Regions from separate parts of the Homo sapiens genome. Here region 2 is linked to region 1. The links come from fine-mapping of genetic effects on gene expression. Tissue or cell type: whole blood. Region 1 holds a variant in brackets; the other region holds the start of a gene. All regions are shown on one strand. Distances are from middle to middle.

What was found. PIP is the estimated chance that this variant, and not a neighbour inherited with it, causes the effect.
Region 2: PRRT2 starts here. The variant in region 1 is fine-mapped to the expression of PRRT2 in whole blood (INTERVAL, PIP 0.97).

The regions. Positions count from the first base shown.
Region 1 is chr16:29,835,182-29,843,245 of GRCh38, reverse strand. MVP (major vault protein) reads right to left here. Exons shown (of 15, transcript NM_005115.5): 6 at 7,448-7,542; 7 at 6,288-6,524; 8 at 2,787-3,068; 9 at 1,406-1,650; 10 at 1,134-1,331. Among named protein-coding and RNA genes, the nearest start is that of MVP, 19 kb to the right of the region's middle. The variant G/A (reference allele first, on the strand shown) is at 3,862.
Region 2 is chr16:29,809,113-29,817,164 of GRCh38, reverse strand. PRRT2 (proline rich transmembrane protein 2) reads right to left here and starts at 4,972. Exons shown (of 4, transcript NM_145239.3): 1 at 4,842-4,972; 2 at 3,232-4,175; 3 at 2,700-2,832; 4 at 1,284-2,537. The coding sequence starts at 4,110. The coding sequence ends at 2,527. MAZ (MYC associated zinc finger protein) reads right to left here. Exons shown (of 5, transcript NM_002383.4): 5 at 6,001-7,088. The coding sequence ends at 6,934. It overlaps PAGR1 (PAXIP1 associated glutamate rich protein 1), which reads right to left and starts at 1,013. Exons shown (of 3, transcript NM_024516.4): 1 at 158-1,013. The coding sequence starts at 639. MVP-DT (MVP divergent transcript) reads left to right here. Exons shown (of 4, transcript NR_186424.1): 3 at 6,992-7,130; 4 at 8,032-8,052. RefSeq lists silencers at 702-871, 4,970-5,119, 5,520-5,599 and enhancers at 1,062-1,311, 1,562-1,781, 1,674-2,303.

The sequences.
Region 1 (8,064 bases):
TGCTGGGATCACAGGTGTGAGCCACAGTACCCAGTCATGAACACTGTTTCTGTACATGACTTATCTCACCCAATCCTAATAGCTGCTATTGAGCTCTGACCAATAGAGGCACTGTTCTAACACTCATTGCATCTTTTCAATGGCCTTGTGAAGGAGAAAATGCTGTCTTCCTCATGTTACAGATGGGGAAACTGAGGAAAGCACCCTGTCCCTTCCCCAGGTCCACAGGCTGCAAACAGCAGGGCGGGGGCGCAGGCCAGGGCAGTCAGTTTCTGAACTTGAGTTCTCACCGCCCCCTTGCACTGCCCACTCCCGCCAGCTGTGTCCCATGCATCTTTTAACAGCCCGACAGTTACGCATTTGGCTGCACGCTCACTGGGAGCTTAGTTGGGGTAGTGTCCTGCTACTGGATCCCTGAGTCCTGACCCCAGGAGGTGAGCCCACGCCTTCCCTGGATTTGCGTGAACTCCTAGGTTCCCTCTTGACCTCAGCACTGAATGAGGTGTCCTGCCTTCATGAGGAGCCCAGCACCAGCACTTGAGCAGGACCCTCCTTTTCTTGGGGTTCCTAGGCTGCACCCAGCAGGAACCCTCACCCACTGCTTGCCACCCGGTTTGTTTTTTTTGTTTTGAAACAGGGTTGACCGGGTGCAGTGGCTCATGCCTGTAATCCCAGCACTTTGGGAAGCCGAGGCAGGCGGATCACCTGAGGTCAGGAGTTCGAGACCAGCCTGACCAACATGGAGAAACCCCATCTCTACTAAAAATACAAAACTAGCTGGGCATGGTGGCACATGCCTGTAATCCTAGCCACTTGGGAGGTTGAGGCAGGAGACTCGCTTGAATCCGGGAGGTGGGGGTTGCAGTGAGCCAAGATCGCGCCATTGCACTCCAGCCTGGGCAACAAGAGTGAAACTCGGTCTCAAAAAAAACCAAAAAACCAAAAAACCAAAAAACTAAAAAAACAAAAAACAAAGAAACAGGGTCTTGCTCTGTCACCCAGGCTGGAGTATAGTGGGGCCATCAAGGCTCACTGCAGCCTGGACCTCCTAGGCTCAAGTGATCCTCCCACCTCAGCCTCCCAAAGTGCTGGGATTCCAGGAATGCACCCCCATGCCCTGTCCCCATTTTTACCAGTTGTAGGCCAGCTGCAGTTGCAGCCTGGCATGATCCGCCGTTTCGATGGTGATGACGTCTGTGAAGAAGTCAGGCCCCAGCAGCAGGCAGAGCGCACGGCGGGCATGGGGACGCTTGGGCCGCCCAGCTGAGAGGGACAACACTGTGAACTGCTCCTCAGGACCCAGCGACACCAGCTCAGGCCCGAAGACCACGCTGCAGAGACAGCCGAGGGTCAGAGCCAGACCCATGGAGAGCCACCCCCTACACCCTGCGCTGCCAGCACTCACCGGGCTCGCTTCTCTCGGTAGTCGTACACCTGCACCGCAGCGTTGTGGGGCACGCGGTAGCTGACCACACGGGTCTTGTTCCGGGGCGCCAAGGGCTGGAGGCTCTTAGCTGTGTCCTTCTCACCCCTGTCTGCCAGAGGGTCCTGCCCCTTGTTCAGCAGCTCCTCCACCCCGGGAGGCAGCTCTTTCTCCCACAGGACTTCGTCCTGGGTCAGCATGTAGGTGCTTCCAATCACAGCGCGCACCTTGGGACGAGGACAGGGAGGGAAGCTGCCCGTAAGGGTGGAAGGGAGGAAGATCCGCCCAGCTGTCCCAAAGCAGAGCCCATCCAGGGAAGGCGCGCCACGAGGTTAAACACCTTCTCTACGGGGAGGCCAGGCTCCACCCCGGGTTTGCCATCTGCTGGCCCTGTCATCGTGGGCTAACTACCTCACCCCTTGGGCTTCAGTTTCCTCATGTGTCAAGTGGACTTGACGGTGGCTACCTTGCAGGGTCTAGGGGTGAATGACATCTTCACATGTCTAGCTCAAACAGCTCTTGGCATAGAGAAGGTGCTCAATGTTATTTCTAGAATCTTCCTTCATGGGGCAGTTTGGAGGGCACCTCGGGGATGGTGAAGTAGGCTGTGTACACGGATGCTCCCTCGGATTCCAAGCTGGACTTCCAGCTTGGATTCTTAGAGAAGGTTGGAGATGTGGCCCGAGGTCAAATCAAGGTCAAGGTTTTAGGTGAAGCAGAAAAAAATGAAAGATTCCACCGGGATATGGGCATGAGGGAGGAGGTCCTTCCTGTTCCCTGGCCACCCCATCAGACCTTTATGCTGGAAACCAGGTCTGCTGTGGGAAAGGGTCCCTGTCCTAAACCCCCACTTGTCCTCTCAGTGGACATGCTAATATTTTTTTTTGACAGAGTCTCACTCTGTCACCCTGGCTGAAGTGCAGTGGTGTGATCTCGGCTCACTGCAACCTCCGCTTCCCAGTTCAAGCAATTCTCCTGTCTCAGCCTCCCAAGTATCTGGGACTACTCAGACCACCACCACGCCTGACTAATGTTTGTACTTTTAGTAGAGACAGGGTTTCCCATGTTGGCCAGGCTAGTCTTGAACTCCTGACCTCAGGTGATCCGCCCGCCTCGGCCTCCCAAAGTGCTGAGATTACAGATGTGAGCTACCGCACCTGGTTGGTTCTAACATTTCAAATGAGACATTTAAGGCAGAAGGATGGCAAACACTCCACGTAGTGCCCTCCCCCAACCAGACAGCCCACCTGATATGGCTCTCCATGCTGCTGAAGTCCCTGCCCACCTCTTCCACACACCCAGAGGAAGCCGCCACCAAGGCCAAGGCCACGTGGCAGCACTGCTGCTCACTCCCAGCCATTACCTTTCCGGTCTTGACATCCTGCACATAGATGCCCTCGTTCTCGTCTAGAGGGATGGCCTGGCGCTCCTCCACCACCTCCACTTTGGCAGATGGCACATACTCCAGGGGTCCGCGGATGAGCCAGTGGTCCCCAGCCTGGTGTGAGACCTTCTCCTCATCCTCCCCCTCCTCCAGGGGCTGCAGGGCCCTCAGCAGCAGCCCCTGCTGCTCCGACAGCACATACACATCCTGGATGCCTTGTTCCAGCTGCTCTCCTGGCTGGAGGAAAAAAGACTTCTCTCCCTAGTGGGGAGACGTGAGGTTAGGGTCAGTGCCTTTAGGGTTGCGGGTGCTTCCAATGGTACCTCCCCAGTCCTGTGCTGTTTCAGGCCTGTGTGGAGGACAAGAGCACCAGAAGCCCGCCCCCACCCCCACATCATAATACGGTGAGGCACTGTCTGGACTGTGAGGCTCTACACAAACGCCTGCCAAATCTCATCTGGTCAAATGTGTCCTTGAAAGATTCCATAACTGTCAGGACCTGGATCCACGCAAGCTAAACCATTAAAAATCAACCTGTTTTTTCTTCTTTCTCCCAGGCTTTGTTTTCTAGAGATGGTGTAACCTAGGGCTTGACAAACTCTGGTTTTCAGGCCAAATCTGGATTCTGCCTTTTTTTTTTTTTTTTTTTTTTTTTGAGATAGTCTTCCTCTCTTGCCCAGGCTGGATAGTGCAGTGGCATGATCTCAGCTCTCTGCAGCCTCAACCTTCCAGGCTCAAGCAATCCTCCCACCTCAGCCTCCCAAGGAGCTGGGACTACAGATGCGCATCACCACACCCAGCTAATTTTTGTGTGCTTCGTAGATGATGGGGTGTTGCCATGCTGCCTAAGCTGGTCTCAAAGTCCTAGACTCAAGCGATCTACCCACCTCAGCTTTCCAAAGTGCTGGGATTATAGATGTGAGCCACCACGCCCAGCACCGCCTGTTTCTTAAAAAAATTTTGAGATATAATCCACATATGAAATTTTCCCATCTAGAGTATACAATTCACAATTCAGTTGTTTTAGTATACTCAAAGTTGTCCAACCATCACT[G/A]CTATGTTAAGTCTAGAGTATTTTCGTCATCACCCTGAAAAGAAATCCTGTACCTAGAAGTTACTGCCACTCCCCACCTACCCCACCCACCACTAGTCTATTTTCTTTATGTGTTTACCTATTCTGGACATTTCACATAAATGGAATCATGCAATATGTGGTCTTTGATGTCTGGCTTTTTTCTTTTTCTTTTTTTGAGATGGAGTCTCGGCTCAGCAGCCCAGGCTGGAGTGCAGTGGTGGGATCTCGGCTCACTGCAACTACTGTCTTCCAGGTTCAAGAGATTCTCCTGTCTCAGCCTCCCGAGCAGTAGCTGGGATTACAGGCACCCGCCATCATGCTAGCTAATTTTTGTATTTTAACAGAGACGGGGCTTCACCATGTTGGCCAGGCTGGTCTTGAACTCCTGACCTCAGGTGATGTGCCCACCTCAGCCTCCTAAAGTGTTAGGATTACAGGCGTGAGCCACTGCGTCCAGCTGGCTTCTTTCACTTAGCATAACATTTTCAATTTTATCCATGTTGTAGCACGTATGTCATTATTTTTTGTTTTTCCTAGAGACAGGATCTCACTCTACTGCCTCAGGCTGGAGTACAGTGGCACAATCATAGCTCACTATACACTCCACTTCCTGGGGTCAAGCGATTTTCCCACTTTAGCCTCCCAAATAGCTGGGACTACAGGTGTGCCACCATGCCTGGTCAATTTTTAAAAGTTTTTGTAAAAATGGGGTCTCACTATGTTACCCAGGCTGGTCTCAAACTCCTGGCTTCAAGCAATCCTCCTGCCTCGGCCTCCCAAAGCACTGGGATTATAGTCATGAGCTGTTGCGCCTGGCCTGCCATTTCTTTCTTATGGCTGAATGATATTCCATTGTATGGATATGCTACAATTTTTTATCCATTCATTATATATGTACATTTGGGTTATTTCTAATTTTTTTTTTTTTTTGAGACAGTCTTGCTCTGTCACCCAGGCTGGAGTGCAGTGGTGTGATCTCGGCTCACTGCAACCTCCGCCTCCCGGGTTCAAGCAATTCTCCTGCCTCAGCCTCCAGAGAAGCTGGGATTACAGGTGCCTGACACCATGCCCAGCTAATTTTTTTGTATTTTTAGTAGAGAAAGGGTTTTGCCATGTTGGCCAGGATGGTTTCTAACTCCTGACCTCAAGCGATCCACCCGCTTTGGACTCGTAAAGTGCTGGGATTACACATGTAAGCCACCATGCCTGGCCTATTTCTACTTTTTCTGCCTCCTGTTTTTGCAGATAAACTATTCCAGGAGCATGGCAGTACTCACTTGTTTACGTAGTGCCCAAGCTGCTTTCCTGACATAACAGCAGAGTTGAAGAACTTCCACAGAAACAATGACTCACGGAGCCTGGAGTATCTACCATCCAGCCCCCTTTACAGAATGAGTTTGGCAACTGCTGGTATTCCCACATATAGTTCAGAGAGGGGATGAAGTAGGGGGTGGGAGAGGGTAAACCAAGAGGTTTATTTTACAAAAGATGACAAAGCAAAGTGAACACCAGGATATTAAAGATGTGAAATATAGTCACTGCATGATAGTTCAGTCCATTACAGACTGCACATGGTGGTCCCGTAAGATTATAATGGAGATTTTTTTTTTTTCTGAGAGTCTCACTCTATCGCCCAGGCTAGAGTGCAGTGGCACGATCTCGGCTCACCACAGGCTTGATCTCCAGGGTTCAAGTGATTCTCGTGCCTCAGCCTCCCGAGTAACTGGAATTACAGGTGTGTGCCACCACACCTGGCTAATTTTTGTATTTTTAGTAGAGACAGGGTTTCCCCACGTTGGCCAGGCTAGTCTCGAACTCCTGACCTCAAGTGATCCACCTGCCTCGGCCTCCCAAAGTGCTGGGATTACACGTATGAGCCACTGTGCTGGCCTATAACGAAGCTTTTATATTGTATTTTTACCTTACCTTTTCTATGGCTAGATACACAAGTACTTGCCATTGTGTTCAGCTGCCTGCAGTATTCAGGACAGTCACATGCTGCACAGGTTGGCAGCCTAGGGGCAGGCTACGCCATCTAGACTAGGTGCCATCTAGGTTTGCATAAGTGCACTCTTTTGCACAAAGACAAAATCATCTAAGGACTATTTCTCAGAATGTATCCCCATCATTAAGTGGCGCATGACTGTATCAGAGTTTCAGAGTCTCAGGCAGCGGGTAGCCAGGAGGCCTTCCCAGAAGGGGAATTAACTTCAGGTCTGAGGGGTAAGTCAGAGGCTGCCAGGAATCAAATGGGCCAGTGTCTCAGGTGTGTAAGAACTAAGCATGCAAAGGCACAGAAGGTGTTCCTAGAACGTGCGTCTGGAGGAGAGAAGGCAGAGGGCCTCATGCCACTAGAGGACATACATCTCCCAGGGCAGTCCTCTGTGGGGGTGTAGGGACCTCACCTTGACCACGCGCTTCTGCCCCAGCTGATTCTTGCCATCCGGTCCGACAGGGTCGAGAATCACGCAGTAGTTGTGGGGGCCCAGGGTGGTGATGGGCACAACCCCCAGCACCTCCTCGTGGACATCTGGCACGTGGGCCTCTGTGTCCTGCACTGTTACCAGCCACTCCTCCCCAGTGCGGCGGGACACTCCCCTGAAGTCCCGGAAGTTCCGCCGAGCCCGGAGGTGCAGGGCTGTCTGCAGAGCAACATGTTGGGTATTTGAGTGACCTGCCTCCAACTTCAGGGGATCTGCGAGCCCCATTGGCCACCAAATGCTCCCAATGCTCCCAGATCTCAGAGACAATTTCTACCAATCCAGGGATTGTTTTTTTTTTTTTTTAAATCGGAGTCTCTCTCTTGTTGCCCAGGCTAGAGTGCAAAGGTGCGATCTCAGCTCACTGCAACTTCCGCCTCCTAGGTTCAAGCGATTCTCCTGCCTCAGCCTCCTGAGTACAGCTGGGATTACAGGTGGGTGACACCATGCCCAGCTAATTTTTGTATTTTTAGTAGAGATGGGGTTTCGCCATGTTGGCCAGGTTTGTCTTGAACTCCTGACCTCAGGTGATCCTCCCACCTCAGCCTCCCAAAATGCTAGGATTACAGGCATGAGCCACTGCACCCGACCGGCTTTGTTTTTTTTTTTTTTTTTTGAGACAGGGTTTCGCTCTGTTGCCCAGGCTGGAGCACAGTGGCATGATCATGGCTCACTGTAACCTCTGCCTCTGGGGTTCAAGCGATTCTCCTGCCTCAGCGCCTCTGGAGTAACTGGAATTACAGGCATGCTCCACTACACCCAGCTAATTTTTAAATTTTTTGTAGCGATGAGTTCTCACTGTGTTGCCCAGGCTGGTCTCAGACTCCTGGCCTCAAGTGATCCTCCTGCCTCAGCCTTCCAAATTGCTGAGATTACAGATGTGAGTCATTGCGCCCAGCCCCAGAAAGACTATTTAACCCTTCAGATGATCCAGAATACTCAGGCAATCTGATCTCTGAATTTTTTTAAGTGACCCTAAAATTATTGCTTCTCTTTTACTCTCATGCCATTCTACCACCATTCTCTGCCACTCGGAGGGTTCCCTAGCCCCAGGTCCCTTAAACCACAGCCCCCAGAGCACCAACCTTTTCCGTAAGGATGACGGCGTCCACCAAATCCAGAACCTCCTCAAACACCGCTGGGAGGTACGCCCCTACTGTGGTGACCAGCCATTCTTCCCCTGGGCCAAGAGTGGAGGGTAAGGGACAAGGGCCCCCCAGCCTGCTCCCCACCTACCCCTCCCCCACAGCTTAGACACAGGGGATTGACAGATTTCATAGGCAAAAAGATAGCACTGACCCCAGGCTCAAGTTCCTGACTGCGGTCCTCTTATTCATTCTTTTGAGGCCAAACCCCCACCCCAGTTGAATTTTAAAAGTTTTTTTTTTTTTTTTTTTTTTTTTGAGACGGAGTCTCCCTCTGTTGCCCAGGCTGTGATCTCAGCTCACTGCAACCTCAGCCTCCTGGATTCAAGTGATTCTCATGCCTCAGCCTCCTGAGTAGCTGGGATTACAGGCACGTGCCACCACGCCCGGCTAATATTTGTATTTTTTGTAGAGATGGTGTTTCACCATGTTGCCCAAGCTAGTCTGGAACTCCTGGCCTCAAGTGATCCGCCCACCTTGGCCTCCTAAGATGCCCAAGTTGCTGCTATGCCAACAGCCTGTTCTGCCTTCTCTAAGCTCCAAAGACCAACTTTTGT
Region 2 (8,052 bases), 26 kb after region 1:
CACCCACACGTGTGCTTCTCCCCTGCCCGTTCCTCCTCCCCCGCTGGCTTCCCTCCCTCCACTTTCAAAGGTTCCAGCGTCCCACATTTTCCCCTCCCTATTTCCTCCCGCCATCAGGGGAGCAGCCCCGGGACAAGGTGTAAGGGTGTGCCTTTACTTTTCCTCTTCCTCTTCTTTGGCCTCCGGCTCCTCATCGGATCTCTCCTCTTCGCTCTGGGCCTCCGGCGTGGGAGGCCGGCGGGGCAGGATCTCGGCTTGCAGCTCCAGAGTACCGTGGGCAGCCAGCAGTTCATAGAGCCGCTGGATTTCGGAGGGCGGGGGCATCCAGGGCTGCCCATCCGCAGGCAGCTCCACCTCCTCGTCGCTGCAGGGCACGCACCAGTCCTCGGAGTCCTCCTCGGCAGGCTCTTCTCCCCCAGCGCTGGGGACTTCTCCCTGCGCCTCCTCGCCCCCGGACCCCTCACGCTCGGTCTCCTCTCGGCCTCCTTCCCCCTCGTCCTCGGCCTTACCGGCCGAGGCAGAGGGGCCTCCGGTATCCTCCACGGCCAGAGCCTGGAGGCCGGAGGTCACTTCCCCTTCTTCAGACAGAGGCGCCGCCGTACTGGCCGCAGTGTCTCCATGGCCCCGAGCAAGGGACATAGGCCACTAGGGCAGGGACCCTGCGACGACAGATACTGGAGTCCGAAGCCAGGGTCCCCCAGGGATCGGGCTCCCCTGGGGGTTCGGGACCGTTTCCAGCCAATCACGCTCCCGCAGGGGACTCCGCGGCCAGACCGCCCGTCCCCGGGAGGGGGCGCTCAGTCCCCACCAAGGACCCCGCCCCGGAGATCGAGGTTCGGTACTCCGAGGCTCCCGGGCCCCGCAGAAACCACTTTCCGAAAGAGGGAAAGGGGGAGGAGAGGGACGGGCCACTCTTCTCGCTTCCACGACGCCCCTCTCCACACCCGGACACGGCGCCTTCTCCCCAGACCTTTCAGTTGTGGGCCACGTCAAGTCAGATGCCGTACGCACCTGGAGCTAAGACCCGCCTCCCAGGCTGCGCAGGGTCACGCTACGCAGGCGCACAGAAATGGCGCGGGAGGCTCCGCTCTAGGCAAGGCTACTTGGAAGAGGAAAGCGAGGGAAGGCTTGCACATGCGCGAGTAAGCGCACAGGCTTCAGCCCACAGTAAAGATGGCCACCGGGAAGTCGCATGCGTATACCACCCAGTAAGGTTCTGCCAGAAAGGCAGCACCGCCGGGCCGGCGGGACGAACGCAGGAACCAACCGAGATTGGAGGCGAGTCTCATGCAGTCTCCGTTTATTGGTGTTTCAGACTCATGCAGCATCCGGCATACAAAAAGGGAGAAATCAGTTTGATAATAGCCTTTTTTTTTTTTTTTTAAGAATTTTAGTTTTTTTCTTCCCCCAGACTTTTTTTTTTTTTTTTTTTTTTTTTTTAAGGAAAAAAACCCCCGCCAAATCCGAACCGCGTTGTAGCTCGGTCCCCGCCTCCTCAGCGGGCTGTCGCGTGCAACAAACCTCCCCCATCATCTTAGAAAATAATTATAGAGCGCGGCGCCCCGCCCTCGCTCCTGCCAGTGGGCGCTTTGGTCCTATTTTTTGGATTATTTCATTACGAAGCACGTGAATGAATCTAGCCCCCACACCTTCAAGAAAGAAACTCGCGGACTGGGGTTGAAAAGCCCAGGTGGGCGGGTCAACTCCAGCTGACCTGGAAGGGTCAGCGCCGCGTCCCTCCCTTCTCCCCTGCGTGCGTTCGGAACCAGTACTCGCCACCCTCACCCGAGTCCCCATACGAGGCCCGGCTTGCCAACTCTGCGACCTGCCAGGCACCCTTGGGTGTCCGACCCTGGGTGGTCCCAGCAGAGAACAGTCCGAGCCTGGGGTTGGGGAGCCCTCTCCCAACACTGCTCCCTGCCCCCAAGCCTCGTCTAAGTGCTGTCAATTTTGCAGAGTAAACGGTGACGGGAGGTTGGAGAAGAGGATGCTTAAGGGAGATGAGGAGGCAGGAAGAGGAAGGGGGCGGGACGTGGAGAGGAAAGGGGAGATGATAAAGAAGGGAAGGAAGAGAGGACTGAGGGTTGAGAGATGCCAAGACAATGAAAGTTGGGAGGAGGCGGCCAGGGTGGAGGTCCAGAGAATTTGGGGGGCTGGAAGAAGTGCAGGGAGGCCAGGAGAGATGCAGGGAGGCTGAGAGCGCAGAGTTGGGGAGGTGTTCAGGGAGGTTTCCAGAGTGCAGGGAGGTTTCCAGAAGTGCAGGGATAGGGGGCCAAGAGGCCGGAGGGGATGCAGGCATTAGTGCAGGGAGGTTGGAACCAGTGCAGGGATGAGGCAGGCCTACAGTTGGCAGAGGAGCCTGGCAAGATGCAGGAGCAGGACAGAAGCTGTAAACAAGGCCGCTCAGGCTCCCTTGGTCCTTAGGGGTGGGGGCCAGGGCCATCAGTTGGGCTCCCCCCAGGGGAGGGATGGGCCCAAGGCAGCTCCCAACAGGAAGAAAAGTCTTGGGATGCGGGGCAGAGCCCCTCACTTATACACTGTGGGAGAGGAGAGGGAAGGACAGACGGGGGGAGGGGGAGACAAGGAGAGACAAAGGAGAGGTAAGGAGGACAGACAGGAGAGAGCAGGGGCAGGGGTTAGTAAAGCTGCCCTTGCCAACCCTTCCATTCCTCCCCTGCCTGTCCCAAGCCCCCACTCACCGCCTAAGTTGATGACGCAGGAGGCGATGATGATGAGGACTCCCCCCACCAGCGCCACGATGCTTAAGAGCTTGGCTACCCGGCCCAGACGCTGGGCCCCGTCCACGTCCCCCTGCTGCAGGCTGTTCCGGGACTGGGGTTAGGGCGAGGGGTGGAGGCACATAGCCGGGGTCAGGAGAAGCCAGCCCAGAAGGGATCAGGTGGAAAAGTCATCCAGAAGAGAGAGAGGCCAGCCCCATAGATGGCGGGTAAGGGAGGAAGGAGGAGTGAAGGGGCAGGGGGAGGAGGGCACAGGTCAGCGAGGCTGTGTGACACGTGTTTCCATATCCCTCCCACCCAAAGGGGCAGGGCAGTGGTGGCTCAGAGGGTTAGGTCCTAGGGAGAGGCAAACAAAGGCCCTGGAATTGGGGAGGTGGGATCCATGCAGAGAGGAGAGGGGAAGGAAGGCATGATTACTCCAGAGGCTCTATTGCAGCGCTGGCGGGAAGCTGGGAGCCACAGCAGGCCTGGGCTAGGGTCCCATGGGGCTCACCATGACAGCATAAGCGAAGGCCACGATGTTGACAGGCCACATGGGGCAGAAGCAGGACAGGATGGCAAGGATGATGTAGTCCCGAGGTTTCTGGGTGCCTTCACCCCCCTCCACCCCAGGACCTGCCAACTGGGAGCTGGGGTGGCGGCTCAGGCTACCTCGGGGAGATCCTGGATGCCCACTGTGTGCCCTTCTCATTCGATCCTCCTCAACCAGCTGCTGCAGCACTCGGGGGGGGGCCCCATTGGCTGGGGGGGATTTTTTTGAGGGTGGTGAGTGAGGCTCAGGGGCTGGGCCCTCTTCCCCATCACCAGCCTGCAGGGGCACCACTGCCCCATTCTCTTGCTTTTCCCCTACACTCTCAGACAGAATCTCAGGGGTGGGGTCCTCCTGGGTAGGGAGCTCTGGTTGAAGGGCTGGCTTGGGGGTAGGCTGGGAATCTGGCCGGGGGTCTGGTTGGGGAGCAGGCTCTGGGGCTGGTTCAGGTGGGGCTGCAGACTCCAGCCTGGACCCCTGGTCTGCAGTGGCCTCTTTGCTCACTTCTGGTTTGGACACTGTTTCTTGGCATGGGTCTTCGGGGCTGCAGTTGGCCTTTGATTCCCCTCCTGGGCTTAAGCTGAGGTCTGTGGCCTGGGCTGTTTCTGAGGCCCCAGCCGGGGTCTCTGTGGTTTCTGGAGCCAGCCCAGCCTTGGGCCCTGAGTCCACAGGGGCCGCAGTGGTGTTTGGACCTGGCTGCGGGGCCTCTGGCTGGTCTGGTACCCCTGCTAGGACCTGGGGAGGGCCAGTTTCAGCTTCAGAATGGCCAGGCCCTTCGCCTGGAACCTTGGGACTCTCCTCAACCCCCTTCATCTCAGAGATCTCAGAGCTGCTGGCTGCCATCTTGAGATGGGAGAGGGGAGAGAGCCCCTATGGGGAGGATGGAATAGCAGAGACAGCGGCAAACCCTGGAAGAGGAGGAGATAGGCTTGGGGTGAGGAGGGAAGAGGGCGCTCAGCACTGCAGGCCCAATTGGGCCACATTCCTGTCTCAGGGCCAGCCTTGCACTGCCTCTAGGGAGAGGAAGAAAAGTTGGGGTTTCCTTTGCCTTAGGGTGGGACATCCCTGCGGGAGGAGTGCTCTACTCAAAGTCTTCTGCTTGGAGAGCCCTGGGGAAGATTAACCCTTTTGTAAACAGGACCTTCTCCAGGGTCTCTCCCTGGGTCCATCCAACAAGATCCAGACTCTCAGATCCCAGCACCCCAAAATCAACGAGCTGTGCAAATAGCACTCCGACAGGCCGACTGGGCAGAGGACCCGACATTCGCATTCCACTCCCTCTGCATCCTCCCCTCCTCCCTGGGCTCCCAGGCGGTGCGGGTTTTCTTGCTGCGCGTTTAGGGCGAGGACGCTCCCGCCCCTTTCTGGGGGACCTGGTTATCTCCTTCGATCCCCTGTCAGCCCCTCTCCCGGGGCTTCCCTCGCCTTCGGTGGGCTGGCGCCTCCTCCCGATGGTTCAGCCCGCCCAGCACCACCACCAGCCCTCCAGACACCCGCATTCCCGTGCAGTCCGCCCGGCGTCAGCCGTCGGTCGGTCCACTCCTACCCGCAGCCTCAGTCTGCCCGGGTCTCACCTCGACGCCGGCCTCCGGACAGCTCCCGCTGCCGCTGCTGGCTTTTGCAGCAGCCGCAGCCCGGGAGGGAGCAAGTCAGCTAGGGAGGGAGGGAGGCGGCGGGTCTCCCTCTTCTCCTCTCCCGTGTGCTCATCCCCTCCTCTCCGGTCCCCTCCCCTACGCTCCGCCGCCGTCGCCGCCCCCGCCCCTCGCGAGCCTCCGGCCCCTCCCGCCAGCCCAAGGGAGCCACGCGTTACCCAGGCAACCGGCCCGGGGACCACTCGCGCCCCCTCCCTGCCCCTTCTCACGCGCGCCTCCAGGAGAGACGCCTCCTTCTTAAGTCCCCGGCCCCTCCCGCCAACGGTCACCGGGATTCCTGGAAGAGACGGGGATTTGGGGGAAACGGAGAGGGTTCTGCGAGGAGACGGGACCAGTGAGACAGGCAGGACCGGGTGGAGGCGTCTCTACGAGCAGGAGGGCAAGGAAGATGGGGCAAGACGCGGGGAGGCTGCAGAGGAGGAGCAGGGTGGGGTTTGGAGAGAATGGAGCCTGCAGAAAGGAGCGGCAGAAACTGGCGCTGGAAGGCTCAAAAAAGGGGCCCTGGAAAGGACGGAGCGGGGACAGGAAAGGGAATTCCAAGGGGCAGGAGGAGCTGGGCAGAGGAGCCCGTGTAAACACAGAGTGGCCCATGCCCAGGATGAGGGACAGGTGCAGCTTTCATTCTCTACCTCGCTGCTCCCAGTCCTAGGGCTCGGACTCCCCAGCCTTTCCGCAGCCGCATCCACCCACCATGGCCTCAGGGCCGTGACGCGCGTGGGGAGGGATGCGGCTGGGGGCTGAGCAGCGGCCATGAGTGTGGACGGGGGAGGGCGGCATTCCCGTCTGGCAGCTCTGTTTGGGTTTCTGACGGGGCCTCTTCAAACCTCCAGGGGCTATTCTGGGCCTGTCCGAGTTGGGAATTCCCCAGAGACCTGGAACTTGCTCTCCACAGCCACAGCCTTGGCCCCGCCCTGTATCTGTGCTGCCGCCAGTAAGGCTGCCCCTGGGGAGGGCGGAGCCAGAACCTCACAGCCTCACAGGGCAGAGCAAGGCTGGATTGACGGACACCAGGCCGAGAAGAAACCCTTGGGGTTGGCGGCAGTTCTTAGTGAGGGCAATTCATTCAATCCAGAGCCAGAAACAGGATTTTATTTAAAATTTATTGTAATGGGGTCCGCGCAAAAGGAAGGGGTGGAGGGTGGGGTACATGCAGGGGACACAGGAACACGATGACATGGCCAGGGCCACAACTTCTTCTGTCGTGGGGAAGAGGGATGAAAAGACAAGACCAGGGCTGGAGCTGGGGTGGAAGAGGGGAGGGGGACACTGGCTGCATTCCCCCGCCCCCAGGAAGCACCTCTAGGCCCTGGACCCCTCGCTCACCCTGGCCCCTAAGACTCCATCTCTTCTCTGCCTCTGGCCCTCCTGGCTCTTCCTCCTGCTCCCCTTGACTTTTTCCCCTGACAGATTCTCAAGTAGGACGATGTTCAGGGCCTGACCCCAACCCCCCATACCACCTTATGAAGGTACAACCTTTGCCGGCCCTGCTTCTGCCCCTCCTCAAACCTCACCGCTTTCCCTCTTTGGGACAGCTCTGATCCCCCTCCTTCCTCTCCTCCCTCCCCCTGGAAAAAAAAAAAAAAGGAAAAGAAAGCACCAACTCCCCGGGGAGGGGCTGCAGACAGCAGGGGGAGAGGACTGGAAGGAGAGAAGAGGACCGTCGAGGGAAGAGGCTCACAAGTCCCTGGGAAGACAGGGCATGGGCTTACAGAGAGGAGAGGGGGTACGGGCAGTGGCTGCTCGTGTCCTCTGCCACCCCTGCCCACTGTCCAGGGGACTTCAACACAACCGAGGGGACAGGTTTGTGTGGGGTCAGGTCTGACAGAAGAGGAGCAGGAGAAACAAATCGTTAAAACCTAGCGAATTCCCCTAAGAAAACATTTCTTCCTCCTTTCCTTCTGGAGGCTCCTTGGTTGGTAGGGAAATAGGAGTTGGTGGGAAAAGAGGGGGGAGAGGAGCTTGTACCAAGGGACTCTACTCCATTCTCCCCTCTCCCCCGCAACCAACTTGGAGCTCACCAGGGTTGGGAGGGAAGTGGCTGAGAGCTCACAGGCACCCCCTCCGCCCCCGAGAGGGAGCCCACAGCTGTGGGAGGGGCTGCTACTGCTGCCGCTGCTGCCGCTGCCGCCGCTGCCGCTGCCGCCGCCATTGGACAAACCTCACCAGTACCTGCACAGGAGAAACACCACGGATCACAGCGCGATCTGAATGGCAAGAGCCTTGCCCTCACCCCACACCTTCCCAGCCTGCTTCCCCTGGGACACAGCCGTTGCTCACTTCCTATCTGGACCCCAGAGGCCTCAGCCTGCATCCTCACCCAGACAGAGCAGTTCTCAAGGATCCTCCCTGTGCCCAGAAGTCTCCCTAGCCTGAGTGGTACATGGGCATCCCTCGCCTTCCTGAGATCCCCTATTGGGCCCTTTGAGCCCCGTTGTCCCCCACACCCCCCATCCCGCCCCCCAGCCATGCCCCACGCCTTGCCTGGTGGGTGCGGGGGTCCCCCTCAGCAGGTGGGCTGTGGCTGGGGGGCGTCTCCCGGGACAGGGGGGGCGGCCCCCCCCAGATGGGTCTGCATGTGGCCGGCCAGCTGGGCAGGGGTCTTGCAGTGCACGCTGCACAGCTTGCACAGGATGCGGTCAGCCCGCGGGGCCTGGAGCCCGTGGTCCTTCACCGCGTGGATGCGCAGGTATGCTGCCGTGGTGAAGCCTATTGGGGGGTGGATTGGGATGGGGCGGGGGTCAGCCAGGCGGAGACCCCAGAGACGGGGCTGATCTCCTAGGCGGGGGATGCCCTCCTCAGATGGCCCTGTCCTCCTCCCACGGTATCCTTGGTAGCCTGGGGCCAACTGCTCTGTTGGGGCTGGTAGACACAGCCCCTCCCTGAGCCTGGGGCCTGGCTTGTGTGGTGCCCGCTTCTCAGCCTTGGTACCTACAGAACTCATTCTCCATGGCCGGGAGACCTCTCCCAGGATGACGAGACACTGACTCCTAGCCACTTGCAGGGTTGACCCTCAGCAGAGACGGCTGTGTCCCCTTCCCTCCAGTGCCCCGCGGTCTCAACCCAGTTAACCGGTGAGTCTGACTGAAGGCAGCTTTCTCTGCTACCCGTGCAGGGTGCGTGCTGGTAAAGCCCG